2 linked regions of the Homo sapiens genome follow. The protein of the gene in region 2 binds, or shares a complex with, the protein of the main gene of each other region. Each region holds a gene or a part of one and is shown on either strand. Other genes may lie near its edges. The genes, in order: CAMLG and GET1.

Evidence for each region.
Region 1: GET1 (region 2) and CAMLG share a complex: the UniProt entries of both Homo sapiens proteins name them as parts of the golgi to ER traffic (GET) complex.

What each region holds. Positions count from the first base shown.
Region 1 is NC_000005.10:134,731,861-134,741,547, reverse strand, and holds the start of CAMLG (guided entry of tail-anchored proteins factor CAMLG), read right to left. Parts: upstream 3,001-9,687; 5' UTR 2,928-3,000; coding exon 2,756-2,927; intron 486-2,755; coding exon 25-485; intron 1-24. UniProt on the Homo sapiens protein: Required for the post-translational delivery of tail-anchored (TA) proteins to the endoplasmic reticulum.
Region 2 is NC_000021.9:39,389,600-39,398,383, reverse strand, and holds the end of GET1 (guided entry of tail-anchored proteins factor 1), read right to left. Parts: intron 7,687-8,784; coding exon 7,521-7,686; exon of another isoform or gene 6,908-7,520; intron 6,616-6,907; coding exon 6,548-6,615; intron 5,219-6,547; coding exon 5,104-5,218; intron 1,519-5,103; coding exon 1,445-1,518; 3' UTR 495-1,444; downstream 1-494. Other genes in the region: GET1-SH3BGR (WRB-SH3BGR readthrough), read right to left, coding at 6,548-6,615, 7,521-7,686. UniProt on the Homo sapiens protein: Required for the post-translational delivery of tail-anchored (TA) proteins to the endoplasmic reticulum (ER).

The sequences.
Region 1 (9,687 bases), on a different chromosome or scaffold from region 2:
AATAATTTACAGATCTTTTCTTACCAAGTATTTGCAAACAAAAGCTCTGACTCCAAGAGCAAGAAGAGCACATCCCACCAATCTAAATATTCGAAAAGAGTCAAATTCTTCTGTTGTATTTCCATCCTCTTGACTGGGTTTTTCACTAATCAGCTGTTTCCTTAGCTTCATTGCTTCTTCGAATCTGGAAAGGTACTGCTCTAGGCCATGGCGGGAACCCCTCTGGACCGAGTCCGCTGTCAGGTCCCCTCTGTTCCGCTGCCGGAGCTCAAGGTTGACATCACTACTGCACTCAGGTGGTTTAATGAACGAGTCCAATTTGTCTCCCAGTTGGGTCCCCTTTACCTCGGCCACACCACCCTGCTGGTCAGTTGTTCCTGTACTGACTGAATCACCCAGCACTACTCGCTTTGAAACGGAAGGAACGCTGAGGGAGTTCAGTTTATCACTGTCCTGCTGCTTTGATTTTGTTTGACTTTCTTCTTCTGAGAAAAGAAATGTAAAAGCCTTATGTATTTATTCCATACTGGCAAACACCTTACATGTTTATGTTTTAAAATATGCTGTTGCAGCTAGAACTCAGCAGCCTCTGCATCAAAATAAATAAATACCGATTCTGCATTAAAGAAAAGCTGGTTTCGGCCAGGTGCCGTGGCTCACGCCTGTAATCCCAACACTTTGGGAGGCTGAGGCGGGCGGATCATGAGGTCAAGAGATTGAGACCATCCTAGCCAACATGGTGAAACCCCGTCTCTACTAAAAATACAAAAATTAGCTGGGTGTGGTGGCGTGTGTCTGTAGTCCCAGCTGCCTATAGTCCCAGCTACTCTGGCTGAGGCAGGAGAATCACTTGAAACCCGGGGGGAGGAGGTTGCAGACACTGCGCCACTACACTCCATCTGCATCTGCCTGGCGACAGAGTGAGACTCCATCTCAAAACAAAAAAAAGAAAAAAGCTGGATTCTTCCTCTACACCCTCAAAATGTATCACCCAAAATGAATATTCTGCAGAGGAAATAACCCAAACTTTGTGGGTAGGAGATAAGATTAGTAGACAAACTGGGAAAGATATTCAGAGATGGAGCAAGCTGAAAAGACCAACTTTTTATGGATAATATATCCCAGATGTATGATTGCATTGCCTGCCTTAGCTTATTTGGTTAAAAATATAAAATCAGTAAAGCCTTTTAAAATCTATATTTTAAAATTAGATTTCTGAATCCAGTGCCCTATGAGCATAGGGTGTGGCATATCCCAAAGCTACTGTTTATGTAGTCAGGCAGCCATTAGTAGGCACTTCAGCAGTTTTAAGACACTACTCTGGGGTTTTGTTTTTGTTTTTGTTTTAAAAAAAAGGCCAGGCACAATGGCTCACACCTGTAATCCTGTAAGCCCAGCACTTTTGGAAGCCAAGGCTGGTGGATCACTTGAGCCCAGAAGTTCCAGACCAGCTTAGGAAACATAGTGAGACCCCCCCATCTCCACACACACAATTTTTTTTTAAATTAGCCAGGCATGGTGGTGTACACCTGTGGTCCTAGCTACTCCGGAGGCTGAGGTAGCAGGATTGCTTAAGCCCAGGAGTTTGAGGCTGCAGTAAGCTATGATCATGCCACTGCACTCCAGCCTGGCCTACAGAGGGAGACCCTGTCTCAAAAAATAAAACAACCTTTAAAGACATAAAATTTTCAAAGCAAAAGAACAAAATATAGAAAGTACCTCAGGTAAGATCATAAATAATGCTTTAAGAATAAATAGCCCGATAGAAAAATGTTTCTTCTATTGTTCTAGAAGAATTTGAAATGGTTTTCTTACCTCTCATTTGAACTGCCTAAAAGTTCAGAGCTATACACCTAAAGCCTTACAGAACAAAAGTCACAAAGATATAAGGAGCTTGCGACCAGTGACTAAAGGCCAATTACTAAAGGAAACACTGGAAACTTAGATAACACTAGGGCGCGCTAATTGCTCAATTATACTCACGTGAAATAAATTTTTTTTAAAGAAAATCATTGGACATGTGTTTGGGGGAGGAAGGAGGCGCTCTCCTTAGAAATGCAGCTCCAGACATCAATCACAACAATATCCCCTCATGAGGAGAGGAAACTCTCAGGTGTGCACTTCGCACTTGCTGGGTCTCTGAAGAATGCTCACTCTCACTTTTCCCACCTTTTCTAGCCGGCCCGTAGGTGACAGTGTTGACGGCACTGAACACAAACACTAGGATATGAGCACAAGAGTCCCTGATACACGTAGGATGAACTAGCGGGCAGTTCAGTAAAGACAGGCTGATGTGGGCGGACAGGAGTTACACAGCAAAAGGCAAAAGAAGGTAGACGCTAGAGAAGGCACTGTAAGGAAAAGCACTTGGAACCTTAAGAAGGAAAGCCATCTTCCTAAGGGGAGCAGTAGACATGACAGTCTGGGGATACAACGTGCGCCCTTCAAGAAAGGCGAGGAGTGGCTAAGGAAAAAAGGGGCTGTTCAACGTAACTGGGAAGAGGGAGTGAGAGCTCTGCAGGCAGGGTGGGGAAAATCTCACGGCGAGGCCCCGGGAAAATTGAGGGGAGCGACTAGGAACATCCTGGGGTTCAGGGATGAGAACTTGGGATATCACCGAAGGGGCGGGACAGAGAGGAAATCAAAGAGCAAGGCTTGGTCAAAAAGGTCAGAGGAGTGGAGGTGGGAGAGGGAAGAATGACCCTGAAGATTCAAGGTGATGGGCGGGAGACTGAGGGGAAATCGAGGCTCTTACCCGCGCCGCTCCCGGGCCTGTGAAAGCCCATGATCCGGTTGATGCGCTGTTCCGAGTTCATGAGCAGCTTTCTCCGACGCAGCTCCGCCCGACGCTGGGAAGCCGACAGACCTGAGCCCGCTGGGACCCCCGGCCTCTCCCCGCCGTCGGTAGCGACGGCCATCGACTCCATCCTCCCGTCCACAGTCTGGGAGGGGTGGCAGTGGCGGTGATGTTGGCCGCCGCTGCGAGGGCGATGACTAGAGGCCGGGCCGCAGGGCGCGCGTCCCCTTCCCACTATAGACCCGCCCCCGAGCGCGGTCCCGGAGCCTGTGAGCTAAGCACTCACGCACCGCCCCACGCGACCAAGCGCGAGGCTCTGGCCGCCATCTTGAGTGAGGGCAGCGCTGGACGCCCTCGTGCCTCCCCAACTCTTCTGGCCCTCACCCAACAGCCCCCTCTGCTGTTCACTCGGAGGTGAAGAAAACCAGCACCCAGGGCCGGGAGTGGTGGCTCACGCCTGTAATCCTAGCACTTTGGAAGGCCGAGGCGGGCGGATCACGAGGTCACGATTTCGAGAGTAGCCTGGCCAACATGGTGACCCCCTCCCCCCTCCCCCCACCCGTCTCTACTAAAAATACAAAAACTTAGCCGGGCGGGGTGGCGCGCGCCTGTAATCCCAGCTACTCGGGAGGCTGAGGCAGGAGAATCTCTTGGACCCAGGAGGCGGAGGTTGCAGTGAGCCGAGATCGCGCCACTGTTCTCCAGCCTGGGCTACAGAGCGAGACTCTGTCTCGAGAAAAAAAAAAAGAAAGAAAAGAAAACCGGGAGTGGGAAAGGGATGGCAGTAAGTAGGTCAGCCTAGATTTGGTGCCAGGAAGCAAAATGGAGGTTGCAGCGGCAGTCGCTTGTTTACAGACCCGCGGCCTCGCCTGTAGGCAATGGGAATACGTAACCCTGGGAGCCGCACTTAAAGGGAGCCTTACGCTGGGATTTGTTCTTGGTGCCTGTTCCTCATCCTTAACTTCTCTACGGCAAAGTATACGGCTGATGTGTTCCTAGGCTTTCCTCGCGTTTTGTGCGTTTTTATTCAAATTAGAATTTCCCATTGAAACCTTTCGTGCACATTCTATCTAAATTGCCAACACTCCCCATTCCCCTTCACCTTGTTTTTTCTCCTTGTCGTTCATGACCACCTCGCATGCTAAAGATGCTCCAGCCTGGGCGACAGAACGAGACTCCGTCTCAAAAAAAAAAAAGGAAAAGAAAAGAAAAAAACAAAAAGGCCGGGAGCGGTGGCTCACGTCTGTAATCCTAACTTTGGGAGGCCGAGGCAGGCGGATCACCTGAGGTCAGGAGTTCGAGACCAGCCTGGCCAATATGGCAAAACCCCGTCTCTACTAAAAATACAAAAATTAGCCTGACCTGGTGGCATGCACCTGTAATCCCAGCTACTTGGGAGGCTGAGGCAGGAGAATCGCTTGAACCTGGGAGGCAGAAATTGCAGTGAGCCGAGATCATGCCACTGCACTCCAGCCTGGGCGACAGAGGGAGACTCCGTCTCAAAAATACATATATAAAAGAAATAAATAAAATAAAATCAGAACAAATGACTGGGCGCGGTGGCTCATGCCTGTAATTCCAGCACTTTGTGAGGGCTGAGATGGGTGGATCACTTGAGGCCAGGAATTCGAGACCAGTCTGGCCAACGTGGCAAAACCCTGACTGTACTAAAAATACAAAAATTAGTCGGGCTTGGTGGCGTGTGCCTGTGGTCCCAGCTACTTGGGAGGCTAAGGTGGGAGGATCACCTGATCCTGGGGAGGTTGAAGCTGCAGTGAGCAATGATCGGGCCACTGCACTCCAGACTGGGTGACACAGTGAGACCCCATCTCAAAAAAGTTTTTTCAGAAAAAAATAATATATTTGCTATATTGTAATGGATCCAGTCTGGATTATAGTCATCATTAATAGCAATACAGTCATAAAATATAATTTTAAGTATGTTTTCAGGCAGGAAGGAGCCACAAAGGCAAAAGAGCTTAGGGCCCTTGAAAGTCATAATGCAGCCTTGGCATTCAGTAATGACTTACTAAGTGAATGATTAGATGAATGAAGGAATTGAATCCATCAACCCTTGCTAACAGGGAGCATGGCCAGTTCACACCTGAGGCTGAGGAGGGTTTTGAAGCAGCTTACTGGGTGGGCCCCCTGCAACTAAGCCTGCCACACAATCACCCTCAAAATAAGGAAGTGGGTGAAATACCACTTAGAAGATAATAAAATACTATATTTATATTAATACTGAAAAAGAAGTGAAAACAAAAGAAACTTCGGTTTGGATTCAACAACATAAGGAGCTCAAAGAATATACAGACTGAACTTTCACCCTTGATTGGATGAAAGTTAAATCCCAGGGACATCCACTAGTTAATAATTTTAAAGTATTAGAGGAAGTTCTTCTGCATATCTGCACAGACATAGATCTCTGAGCCCTAGACTTCCTTAAAACAATTTTACACACAACTGAAAATAATGGAAATAACTGTCAAATAGTAACAAATGTGCAGAATTTGATGAGGCACAGCCCTGATCAATCAAGACGGTTCCAGAAAGGGTTTGAGGAGCTAAATTAGAATTATAGTGTTATATTCAATGATATAAGCATCAAGCAAATTATTTCCAAGTAATATTTCATTCCTCCTTGAAACTGAGGAAGCCGTATAACTGAACTTGAACAGAATTATAAAAAATGTCTGGGCTGGCATGTGGGAGGTCCAGGCAGGAGGATCACTTGTGGCAAGGAGCTCAAGACTGACCTGGGCAACATAGTGAGACCCCCTTCTCTATTTAAAAACAAAGAAAAGAGATCGGGAGGCCAGGTGCGGTGGCTCACACCTTTAATCCCAGCACTTTGGGAGGCTGAGGTGGGTGGATCACTTGAGGTCAGGTGTTCGAAACCAACCTGGCCAACATGATGAAACCCATCTCCACTAAAAATACAAAAATTAGCCAGGCATGGTGGCACACACCTGTAATCCCAGCTACTCGGGAGGGTGAGGCAGGAGAATCACTCAAACCCAGGAGGCAGAGGTTGCAGTGAGCTGAGATTGCACCACTGCACTCTAGCCTGGGCGACAGAGTGAAACTCTGTCTCAGAAAAACAAAAAAAAAGAGTCCAGGCGCAGTGGCTCACACCTGTAATCCCAACGCTTTGGGAGGCCAAGGTGGGAGGACTGCTTAAGCTTAGGAGTTCAAGACCAGCCTGGGTAACATAGTGAGACCTCGTCTCTAGAAAAAAAAAAAAATCAAAAAATTTAAAAAAATTTAAAACGAGGCAGGAAGTTTGCTGCAATGAGCCATGATTGCATCACTCCACAACCACCTGGGTGATAGAGCTAGACCTTGTCTCAAAAGAAAAAGAGTAAAAGAATGAATTGATGAAACTGCTTAAAAGAAATTCAAGAACAATTTTCAGAAATTAGCAAATTACTTCCTCTAAATTCCATAATGAGTCAAATTTTTATTTTTATAAACACAGGGTCTTACTCTATGGCCTAGGCTGGAGTGCAGGGGCACAATCATAGCTCACTGCAGCCTACAGCCTTGAACTCCTGGGCTCAAGCAATCCTCCTGCTTCTGCCTCCTGAGTAGCTAAGGCTACAGGATTGAGCCCAGATAATTTTTTTTTTTTTTGAGATGGAGTCTTGCTCTGTCGCCCAGGCTGGAGTGCAGTGGCGCAATCTTGGCTCACTGCAAGCTCCGCCTCCTGGGTTCAAACCATTCTCCTGCCTCAGCCTCCCAAGTAGCTGAGACTACAGGCGCCGGCCACCACACCCGGCTAATTTTTTTTGTATTTTTAGTAGAGACGGGGTTTCACCGTGTTAGCCAGGATGGTCTCGATCTCCTGACCTCGTGATCCGCCCGCCTTGGCCTCCCAAAGTGCTGGGATTACAGGCATGAGCCACCGTCCCCGGCCGAGCCCAGATAATTTTTTAAAAAAAATTTTTTGTAGAGATGGGGTCTCTATGTTGCTGGTCTTAAATTCCTGGGCTCAAACAATCCAATCTTCTCAGCCTCCCAAAGTGCTGGGATTACAGGTGTGAGCCCCTGGACCCAGCCAGAAATTTTATTTCAATAATTTTCTCAAGTATAGTTGTTAAACACCCTTAAACACTCAAAGTTTAAAAGAAACAGAGTGAATTAACAGTTTCAATAGGAGACATGTCAATAGTCCTCTCCTTAATGAGAATGGAGCTTAGTATAACAAACTGAAAGCCAAGTAATGAACCTCATGAAATAAATGTAATTTTAGATGGTACTGAATATTTTGTTTTACAGTATTTATTTATTTATTTACTCTGTCGCCAAGGCTAGAGTGCAGTGGTGCCATCTCTCGGCTCAGTGCAACCTCCACCTCCTGGGTTCAAGCTATTCTCCTGCCTCAGCCTCCTGAGTAGCTGGGATTACAGGCGCGCACCACCATGCCCAGCTAATTTTTGTAATTTTAGTAGAAATGGGGTTTCCGCATGTTGGCCAGGCTGGTCTCCAACTCCTGACCTCAGGTGATCCACCTGCCTCGGCCTCCCAAAGTGCTGAGATTACAGGCGTGAGCCACCGCGCCGGGCCTATATTAACTTTTAGTATGTTATAAACACTGCAAAACAGGCCGGGCATGGTGGCACACGCCTGTAGTCCCAGCTACTTGGGAGACTGAGGCACGAGAATCGCTTGAACTCAGGAGGTGGAGGTGGCAGTGAGCCAAGATCATGCCATTGCACTCCAGCCAGGGTGACAGAGGGAGACTACGTCGCAAAAAAAAAAAAAAAAGTTAATATAAATGTGTGGATGTTGCCGTGGTTTGGGACAAAATCATTTGGCTCCTTGGATAATGTTACTCTCCGATGTTACCCCAGGGTGACACTGATGAGGATTTCTGCTACTCTAGGAGAGTGGCAATTTAAGGTTTCTGGCCTCCCTTGCTCAGGCAGTCCCCATGCTTTTTTTTATTCTTTGAGACAGAGTCTCCCTCTGTTGCCCAGGCTGGAGTGCAGTGGCTCCAACGGGGCTCACTGCAGCCTTGACTTCCCAGGCTCAACTGATCCTCTCACCTAGCCTCCCAAGTAGCTGAGACCACAGGTACATGCCACCACAGCTGGCTATTTTTTATTTATTTATTTATTTAGAGACAAAGTCTCTTGCTCTATCACCCAGGCTGGAGGGCAGTGGTGCGATCTCGGCTCACTGCAACCTCCACCTCCCGGGTTCAAGTGATTTTCCTGCCTCAGCCTCCCAAGTAGCTGGGACTACAGGCATGTGCCAGCATGCTTGGCTAATTTTTTGCGTTTCTAATAGAGATGGGGTTTCATTGTGTTAGCCAGGATTGTCTCAATCTCCTGACCTTGTGATCCACCCGCCTCGGCCTCCCAAAGTGCTGGGATTACAGGTGTGAGCCACTGCACCTGGCCTATTTTTTATTTTTAAAGACAGGGTCTTGCCATGTTGCCCAGGCTGTTCTTGAACTTCTGAGCTCAAGCAATCCTCCTGCCTCAGACTCCCAAAGTGCTGGGATTACAGGCATGAGCTACCACGCTTGGCCTCTCCAGGCTTGTGAAGCCCTCCTGTACCTGCTGTTTTCAGCACTCCTATAAAGTGAATTATTTTCATGCCTCATCTCTTTTGCCAAATCATTGCACATGAGTATTATCCTGACTCAAAACCCCTAATACTTGAAGGAAGAATTCAGGGAGAAAGCTTCCAACACAGACCAATTGGTTTGTGCTGACCTTGCCATAACCCTGGCTGAATTGCTAAGAATCTTATCCTTTTAAATGATACTGCAGTTGGATGTCACCACGGAGAAGCACGATTTGAGGAAGTGATAATTATGACACACTGATTAATCCTGCCAACCAATATAAAGAAATAGTCCCCGTTCATGAGGACAAACCCATGCTCCAAATCATAACATGCTGATGATAAATTAGCATTCTCATAATATGTGGTAGGAACTAAAAAAAGTCTCTTGATTTATAATAGTAATCACTTAAAACTTAACATAGGTAAAATATTCACAAAAAGGAAAAAACAAAAACAAAACAAAAAACTGGCTGGGCATGGTGGCTCACACCTGTAATCCCAGCACTTTGATAGGCCGAGGCTGGAGGATCACTTGAGCCCAGACACTCGAGACCAGCCTGGGCAACATGGTGAAACCCCATCTCTACGAAAACTACAAAAAATAAAAATAAATAAAAATAGCCTGTAATCCCAGTCACTTGGGAGGCTGAGGTGGGAGAATCCTTTGAGCCCAGCAGGTCAAGGCTGCAGCGAGTTATGATCCTGTCAATGCACTTACTGTGTGACAGTGAGACCTTGTCTAAAAAAAAAGAAAAAAAAAATGAACATGTAGATGCTCAATGAATAACTGTGAAAACTTGGAATTAATTCATATTTCCAATATTGAGAGAAAAATAATAAATATTGATTAAATAGCTAATAATATGCTATTATGCAAACACTAGCAATGCTAAAGTAGTATGTATAATGTATAATGCAAAATTGAATCTTAACTATGATTTATGAGAGAATACAAAATTCAAATGCATTGAACAAAGAGTGGAAGGGAATAGGGAACATAAAAAGACACCTTTTATGATTGTGGATGGACTTTCTAGTTTCACTAAGTTATGTCTGAGCTTGTTCATTCATTCATCAATTATTTGAATGCCTAATATATATCAGCTACTAAGCTAGTTAAGAGTGTAAGAGTGTTAAATTTTCAGGTGGAAATAAATTCCCAGGAAACAATCCTCTACCATCTCAGTGTCTCACCAGTTATCTAAAATAGTAGTGTTTTTTGATAATCTCTAGGTTGTAAACCCTCAAATTGGCATTCATAAAGCAATTGTGAAGACCTATTTAGAATGTAATTAGTGAACATCTAAAAAAGA
Region 2 (8,784 bases):
CAGCAGTTCCCTGGGCACGCTCTACATGGCCGGTGCACTGTTGACTGTCCACCATCATTTCTGCCTGCAGCTTACTAAAACGGGAGTTAGGCACGTGCCCCCTTGGTGCTATATTTCGTCTGAAGGACTAGTTCCTGCAGCTTCCGTGTGCTACTCTCATCTCCTCCCCAGGTTGGCTTCTCATCCTTTGTGGGCAAAATGTATCCCGTGTGGTGACGGACACTGGAAGCTGGTGTCCAGTTCCTCCACCAGGCTGTGGCTGCGTTCCCTGCTCTGTCCTTTCTTAAAGCTAAGTAAACTTGGTGCTGGGTAAGCCTGCGTGCATGTGTGTTTGAGTAAGTGGAACCCAAAAGCTGCTGTGGTGGCCTTCAGCATGACAATAAATAAAGGACCACAGCACTTTGTCTTCTCACAGTCCAATCAGCTAAAATAACAACAAACTACTTATTAGATCATTAGGAAACAAAAGAGTACAAATATGAACTTGCAGAAACTAGTGAGAAAATTCAGCTTTACTGGGATATGGTGACTCAGTTAACAGCCACTTGTCAGTTGCGGGTGGCTCACAGCAAACAAGTAGCTGTAAGGCAGGAAGTTACACAAGCATTTGCAAAGATTTTAATTAGAAAAAAGTGTTTTAAGGAACATTTAATAGAATTATACTTTGTAGGCCACACAGGTTATTGGTTCAGATTAATCAGGACTTATAAGGTTTGTTTTCTGTGTTCCATTCTAAAGAGCATAAATATTAAATGCTTATAAAATACACTTCATTCAAAATGCTTTAAATACAAAACACAAGTTGAGCACAAAACAATGCATCATGGTCTCGTGGATACATTTACAAAACACTGTAATGAAAAATTAACAGCCTCAAGTAAGTAGATAATACTATACAACTCTTGCTCAACAAATGACATTTTAAACAAAGGGAGAAAAAGCCCACGCAATGTCAATTAGTGTTGTTCTTTTAACCATATTGAATGTGATTAAAGAAGAAATTTTCGAATTTTTAGTAGTGGTATTAAAATTAAGTTACTTTCTAAACTGGATTAAAAACAGCACTAAGTCTTCAAAGAACTTACTTAAAGTTGTTAGAAAATTTTGACTTTCCAGTTGGCAATATGACCAAAATACATAAGAGGGCAAATCACAAGTGACAGCATGGAGATGTCCCTAAACATTTCACATTTCGTACAGATCGAGGACGGTGTTCACTAGTACATACGTGTCATAAACTGGACTTTCTTGGCTCAATGACAGGTGTAGAAAATCGTGATTCTTATAAGACTCTCTCATAAAGTCCAAGAACAAACATATTCAACAAAAAAAAAATCTAAACTATGCACTTTTGTTTCTTAAAAAACAAAACAGTGTAAATCAGATTTTAAGCTAGGAAGAGGAAATCCGTTTTTTAGCCTCGCGGCTGTATCCATCCTCCTGTTCAGCTGAACGGATGAAGCACAATAGCGACAACTTTGTTACAGACTAAAATCCAACAGGTAATTCCAACACCACCTGAAAACAAAGACATTCACCATGAGAGCGCATACCAGCAGTGCTGCCCCCATCTGTCTCTGCTGTCTTTAACTCACAGCAAAGAGAGTATTTCCATTCTTTTTGAGCAGTGCTGGGCTGAAGTGAAGTTTATGTTTCATAGGTTCAAATTTGTCACTTTCTTTTTTTTTTTTTTTTTTTGAGACGGAGTCTCGCTCTGTCCCCCAGGCTGGAGTGCAATGGTGCGATCTCGGCTCACTGCACCTCTGCCTCCCGGGCTCAAGCGATTCTCCTGCCTCAGCCTCCCGAGTAGCTGGGATTACAGGTGTGCACCACCACACCTGGCTAATTTTTTTTTTGAGACAGAGTCTCGCTCTGTCACCCAGGTGGGAGTACAGTGGCGCGATCTTGGCTCACTGCAAGCTCTACCTCCCGGGTTCACGCCATTGTCCTGCCTCAGCCTCCCGAGTAGCTGGGACTACAGGCGCCCGCCACCGCACCCGGCTAATTTTTTGTATTTTTAGTAGAGATGGGGTTTCACCGTGGTCTCGATCTCCTGAACTCATGATCTGCCCGCCCCGACCTCCCAAAGTGCTGGGATTACAGGCATGAGCCACCGCACCCGGCCGACACCCGGCTAATTTTGTATTTTTAGTACAGACACGGTTTCACCATGTAGGTCAGGCTAGTCTCAAACTCCTGACCTCAGATGATTTGCCTAACTCGGCCTCCAAAAGTGCTGGGATTACAGGTGTGAGCCACCATTCCCAGCCCGAATTTGTCACTTTCTATAGAATCATAGGGCTGTATTCTTTACTAAGCAGGAATTGCAGTGAACGGTGGACCCTGGGCTGAATTTCCCTTTCCTGCCAGAGAGATGTGCATTACTATTTATGATATTAATAGATTCCAAAACCAAACCTGTAAGATTATTTATTTTTCCTTTCTCAGAAAGCATTATAAACAAAGCAATGTCTACCTATGCCTTTCTTGCCCCACCAATAATGGAGAGGCATACATATCCCCCTGTCCAGGAAGACAGGCTGCAAGAGTGACCCATGGACCTGCTGGATGCATGGAAGGGTGGCTGGATGCTTCTCTGGCCGCAGTGCAGAGCTCCTGGCCTAGGCCCAGCTGTGTCAAACAAAGGAGAGGGGAAGGAAAGGGTGGGGAAGGGGACAGGGGTGGTAGCTAAATTGGGAGTCTTTGAAACAGCCATTCCTGGCCAGGCACAGTGGCTCACACCTGTAATCCCAGCACTTTGGGAGGATAAGGCAGGTGGATCACCTGAGGTCAAGAGTTCAAGACCAGCCTGGCCAACATGGTGAAACCCTGTCTCTACTAAAACTACAAAAACTAGTCGGGCGTGTGGTGGGCACCTGTAATCCCAGCTACCGGGGAGGCTGAGGCAGGAGAACCACTTGAACCTGGGAGGTGGAAGTTGCAGTGAGCAGAGATCACACCACTGCACTCCAGCCTGGGCGACAGAGTGAGACTCGGTCTTAAAAAAAAAAAAAATAGTCATTCCTTTTGATACAGTATTCACCTCTAACATAATCACAAATCACAACCAAAGACCAGCAAGTATGTGTGCTGCAGCATTATCTTTAATAGCAAAAAATCAGGACCGGAATAAATATCCTTCATCAGGAAAATCTGCAAATGAGATATCTAAATGAAGAACAGCTACTGAAAATTCCTTAATAAAGAAATTTGCCAGGCAAGGTGACACACCTATAATCCCAGCACTTTGAGAGGCTGAGGAGGGAGGATTGCTTGATGCCAGGAGTTTGGGACCAACCTAAGCAACAAAGCAAGACCCCATCTCTATAAAAAACTTTTTTTTTTAATTAGCTGGGCATGGTGGTGTGCAACTGTGATCCTAACTATTCAGGAGACTAAGGTGGGAGGACCGCTTGAGCCAAGGAGTTCCAGGCTGTAGTGAGCTATGAGGGTGCCACTGCCAGCCTGGGCAACAGAGCAAGACCCTGCCTCAAAAAGAAAAGAGAAGAAAAAAAAGAAAAGAAATGTACTGATATGGTGCTATGGTCTGAATGTTTGTATCCCCCTAAAATTCATATGCTAATATGCTACCCCCCACAGTGATGGCATTAAGAATTGGGGCCTTATGGGAGGTGATTAAGTCACAAGGGCAGAGTCCGTGTGAATGGGATTAGTGCCCTTATAAAAGAGGCCTAAAGGAGCTTGTCCTTCCACCATGCAAGGACATAGTGAGAAGACACCATCCATGAACTGGAAAATGGGCCATCATCAGACACCAAATCTGCCGGCACCTTGATTTTGGACTCCCCAGCCTCCGGAACAGTGAGAAATAAATTTCTGTTGTTTATGAGCTACCCAGTTTATAGTATTTCACTTAACCCTAACAAACTAAAACATGTGGGAATAGGCTTACCCTATAAAGTAAAAAGGAGGCACAACATGTGATGTGCCAGGTGACCTTAACTATATCAAAATAAATGGGGAAAAAAAGGCAAAGAAAAACATATCACAGCATTAAAAGCTAATAGGAATCTTATTTTTTATTTATTTTATTTTATTTGACACAGATTCTCACTCTGTCACCCAGGCTGGGGTACACTGGCGTGATCTCAGCTCACTGCAACCTCTCGGATTCAAGTGATTCTCACACCTCAGCCTCCCAAGTAGCTGGAATTACAGGCACGCACCACCATGCCCAGCTAATTTTTTGTATTTTAGTAGAGATAGGGTTTCACCATGTTGGCCAGGCTGGTCTCAAACTCCTGAGCTCAGGCAATCCGCCCACCTTGGCCTCCCAAAGTGCTAGGATTACAGGCGTGAGCCACTGCACCCAGCTGGGATTTTTAATTGATAGCTATATTTCTAATCATTCTATAGTGACATGTACTACTTTTAATATCTAAAAAAAATTTATCTTCAAAAATAAAAGAACGTGGCTGGGCATAGTGGTTCATGCCTGTAATCTCAGTACTTTGGGAGGCCAAGGCATGAGGATCACTTAAGGTCAGGAGTTTGAGACCAGCCTGGCCAACATGGTGAAACGCTGTCTCTACTAAAAATACAAAAATTAGCTGGGCGTGGTAGTGCATGCCTGTAATTTCAGCTAGTTGGGAGGCTGAGGCATAAGAATTGCTTGAACCTGGGAGGCAGAGGTTGTTGCAGTGAGCCAAGATCGCACCACTGACTCCAGCCTGGGTGACGGAGTGAGACTCAGTCTCAAAAAATAAAAAATAAAAGAATAGCCAGGAGCAGCAAGTGCTACAGAGAAGCCAACCATAATAGGGATTGAAAAGATACATAATTTTGGAACTACGGCTAGTGTTTCAATGGGGTATCAGACTTGACGTATTGGGCATGGATCCCGGAAACAGACCTAGGACTGAATCCTAGCTTTGCTCCTTAACATTTTGGTGACACTGGACAAGTGAAGTAACTTTTTCAGACCTCAGTTTCTTCATGGGAAGCCTCATGTGAGGCTGAGACACAAAACCCCGCTCACTAAATGGACGGTGAGGAGGATGTCAGGCTAACTTAATCTTCTACCACACACCTCTACATAAGCCTATTCACACTCTTCCACTGCATCTTCCAGAAAATTCTTACCTGCTACTCTAGTAGGAAAGGCTACCAGGCGGTCTAGAGGGGTTATCCATTTACTCGGCACGACAGCCACAGGGACAGAATAATACTTCCAAATGAGTGAGATCATCAGGGCAGCCTGTAAAGACACCTCTGGTGAGCAAAGCAGCCTGCCAATCACACAACCGACCACACAGAAGGGAGGACAGGGAAATGCGAAAATAAAACCAGGAAAACTCTCCAGACTGAGCACCTCAAGCCTAGGAACCCAGTCCCCACAGACAACAGATGAGCACGCACAGCCACTAATGTCCCTTGGTGAAACCTTGAATGAGAAAGTCAAATTAAAGACGAGCTCAGCAGCATGTCTGAACACTGCCAACAAGTAGGCGAGCCTTCCTATGTGAACTGGCATTTCACTGTTTTAGGATGAACACAATCTACACATAATTTAAATTAGCTGATAAACTAACCAAAGTCTCCCATAACACGGGTGTGCTTTTCTCACTGAGTATCTCGTTTGAGTAGCCAGACTGTATGCTCAACACACCTTATTAGTGACGAAAGCCATCCTTGGAAAAAATAGTGAATTCTCCCACGTACACCAGTGTTAGCAAGGGACGCAGAGGTGAGCCCTGTGTAAGTTTCAATGGTGGGGGATGCTTTATTTCCCTCCATCCCCCCACAGCATTCCTTCGATTGTCATCTGTCCCCTTCCTGGCTTGAACAGGCCGCTCAGAAGAGACATGAAAGAGGGTTGCTGGCCTAACTCCTTTGTCTGCGGAAACTTATCTCTTAGCAAATGACAGTGCCTCAGAATTAATTTCCTTCAATATACCCTGCCAAACTAAGCTTTTTTGGGGGTGGGCTTGAATCCTTTGCCTTGGTTACCGGATCACATGGTACTGCAACTCGGATATTTACGGCAGCTGCTAAAGGTGTCTGGGCAGCACAACTGCACTCTCGGGGCAGAGCAGAGCCCAACAGCTCCAGGAGAGGCTATGAGGGTTAAGCCCCAGGCAGGGAGGCTAGAAGCCAATTCCAGTCGGAAAAGCTGGTTCTCTACCTGGAGGGTGGAGAGCGTGCATGAAGTACACCAGGTAACAAGTAAGGGCCAAAAGTATTGAAGATCTCAGAAAAAACTGATGTCATCTATAAGCCTCTCGCTTCATCCCACCAGGCCCTTCAAACCACACTGGGATGCAGGCATGGTGAAAGCTCTCCGAGAACTTACTTCACAGTCCATCTGCCAAAAAGTCCCAAACTTTAACAACTCTCCTCAAGAGAAAGGCTTCCTTTTAGTCTGACTTAGAGACCGAGAGTGTTTAGAGCTCCATGTGGGCAGGGACACACGACACGACAGCTGAAGGTGGAACAGCCCGAACTCCCAGCCCTGGATCTGCAGACACGGCTCTGGAGGCCGGGGTCACCAACTCCAATGACCCGGCTGACGCTCTAGCACACTTACCTGCAATACGTAGAAAGCGACACTTATCACCCATTTTATCTTGGCTAATTGAGCTGTCCGAGCTTTCACTGAAAGGAAAAACAGGATAAATAATTATGTCAGTCCTGAAAAATTAACAAAATATTCAAATACACAGAAATGTTATTTTCCCTTATAATACACTTTCTGATTATAAATGGAACAATCGCTCAACATATTTAGAAAATATAAAATAGAATTTTTAAGTCACCCACCATCTCATTATGCCATTATTTAAAATAGTATCCGACTCAGATTGAGATTTGAATAGCTTTAATTTTGAAAACTCTTAAAACGACTCATGAAATCAAAGATTCTTTGTATAATACAGTTACCACTTACCAACAGGACTAAATTTTCCTCCTTATTTCCCAGTGTGCACAGTACACGAACCCCTGGTGGGAGTCCAGCTTGTCCTGGGCCTGGACAGGCCCCTCTGTCTGTTTTCCTAGCCACAGAGACAGCTCTCTGACTGTGCACACACTGTGACCGGGGTCCCTCAGCACACGGGCTGCCCTGAGAAAGCGCTCTTCATCACAGGACACTGGACCCGGGAGGTGACACTCAGAAGAGGACACTGCTGGGCATTTTTCTAGAGAGTGGAACAAAAGCCTCTGGGAATCCACTGTGAGACTTTTTTTCTGGGCTTCTCTCAGAAAAGTGATGAATTTAAAAATGAAAACCTACAATTTTTAAGAGTTAGCTTAAAATTTTAAAGAGTTGGCTCTGAGGAAAATCTGAGAGGATCTTAGATATTTCTGTGCTTAGAAAGCAAAGGTTCACCAGCAAATAAGAGGAAAGTAATACTTATTACTGAGTTTCCTCCAGATAACTTAAGTTTCCATCAATATTCAGAACATCCAAGAAGCAAAGTATGTATTCTACTAATCTTCACATACAGACTTCTCTATTCATCCGCTCTCATGAAGCCTCCAGGCTGCAAGGGACACAGTACCATGGGTTTTGAGCTTATCCGTCATCTTGTTGATCTTTCTTTCCAGCCTGGCATATCTGGCAAACTCGTCCATCATGTTGACTGTGGAGAGCTCCTGCTTCATGTCCTGGATCTCCGCTCTCATCTGTGACTCCTGCTCCGCGTCCTTCTGCAGCACCCTGGACATCTGGCAGGGCGGACAACGGGGATCAGCACCTTCCAACACGGGTCACAGGAGGGTTCCCCAGTCCCCCGCTACTTTCTGTCTATGCCCTGACCACTCTGTGACCCAGCCAGTTGTGTGCGTCCCTGCAGGACTGAATGCAAACTGCGGCCGTGAACGTTCCCAGGACTGATAAAGAGCAAAGGCTGTTGCTGGAGAACACTGGGAGATTCATCCTGCTGAGAAACACCTACAAACTAGCCCCACCATGACAAAGTCCTTAAACTCCCACATACACTCCATACCCCAACCCCCGGGTGGCAGACAGCCCTAGGTAAATGTCCCTTTCTCTCACTGGCTGTCCCGGGACTGCCGCAGCTCTTGTAAGTTCCCGTCATGAATGCTGTGGACTTATCACCCTGGCGTTTAGTGCTTCTTTCTTTGGAATCCAAGCCAGCCCCATCTCCAGGCAGTCTGGAGCAGCCCCTTGAGGGAACTCCCCTGCCACTGCTTTTGAGGTGACTCCAGCATGGGTTTGGCCAGACAGAACCGGTACACCTTCCTCCAACATCCTACTCCCACCTCTGCCAACTGGGCAAGCTGCCCTCTACCTACACAGCCAGCCTCTGCTGCCTTTTTCGGCTCCCTATAACGACCACAAAAAAAAAAAAAAAAAAAACTCATATTCAAATTGCTATTCAAACTATATTTTTCCTTTTACAGATATGCCCATGAATTTGCTCCAATACAAATGTTTGTCTGTTTCACTATAAATAAAATTGCAATTGTGAAATGAAAACCAATTCCATCACCAGAGCTGTTATTCCAGTGACAGGGAACATGTAACCTCTCCCCTCCCAGAAGAATTCAGTCCTAGATTAGACGGGGCAGAGCAAGGTGCAGGTGCAGGGTAACAGTGGTGAGGCAGGGGCCCAGGGCAGAATGTCAGTGCCCAAGCTCAGTGCAGAGGGCCTTCCCACAGAATGGCACCCTGGCAAGAGGCATCAGGGCCAGGCATGGTGATACAGGGGTCCCCAAGAAAGGGCAGCCTGACACAGGAGTCAGGGTCTGTAGGGTGAGGGAGACAGACATACAAGACAAGAAGGAACCCTGCCAGGGTCG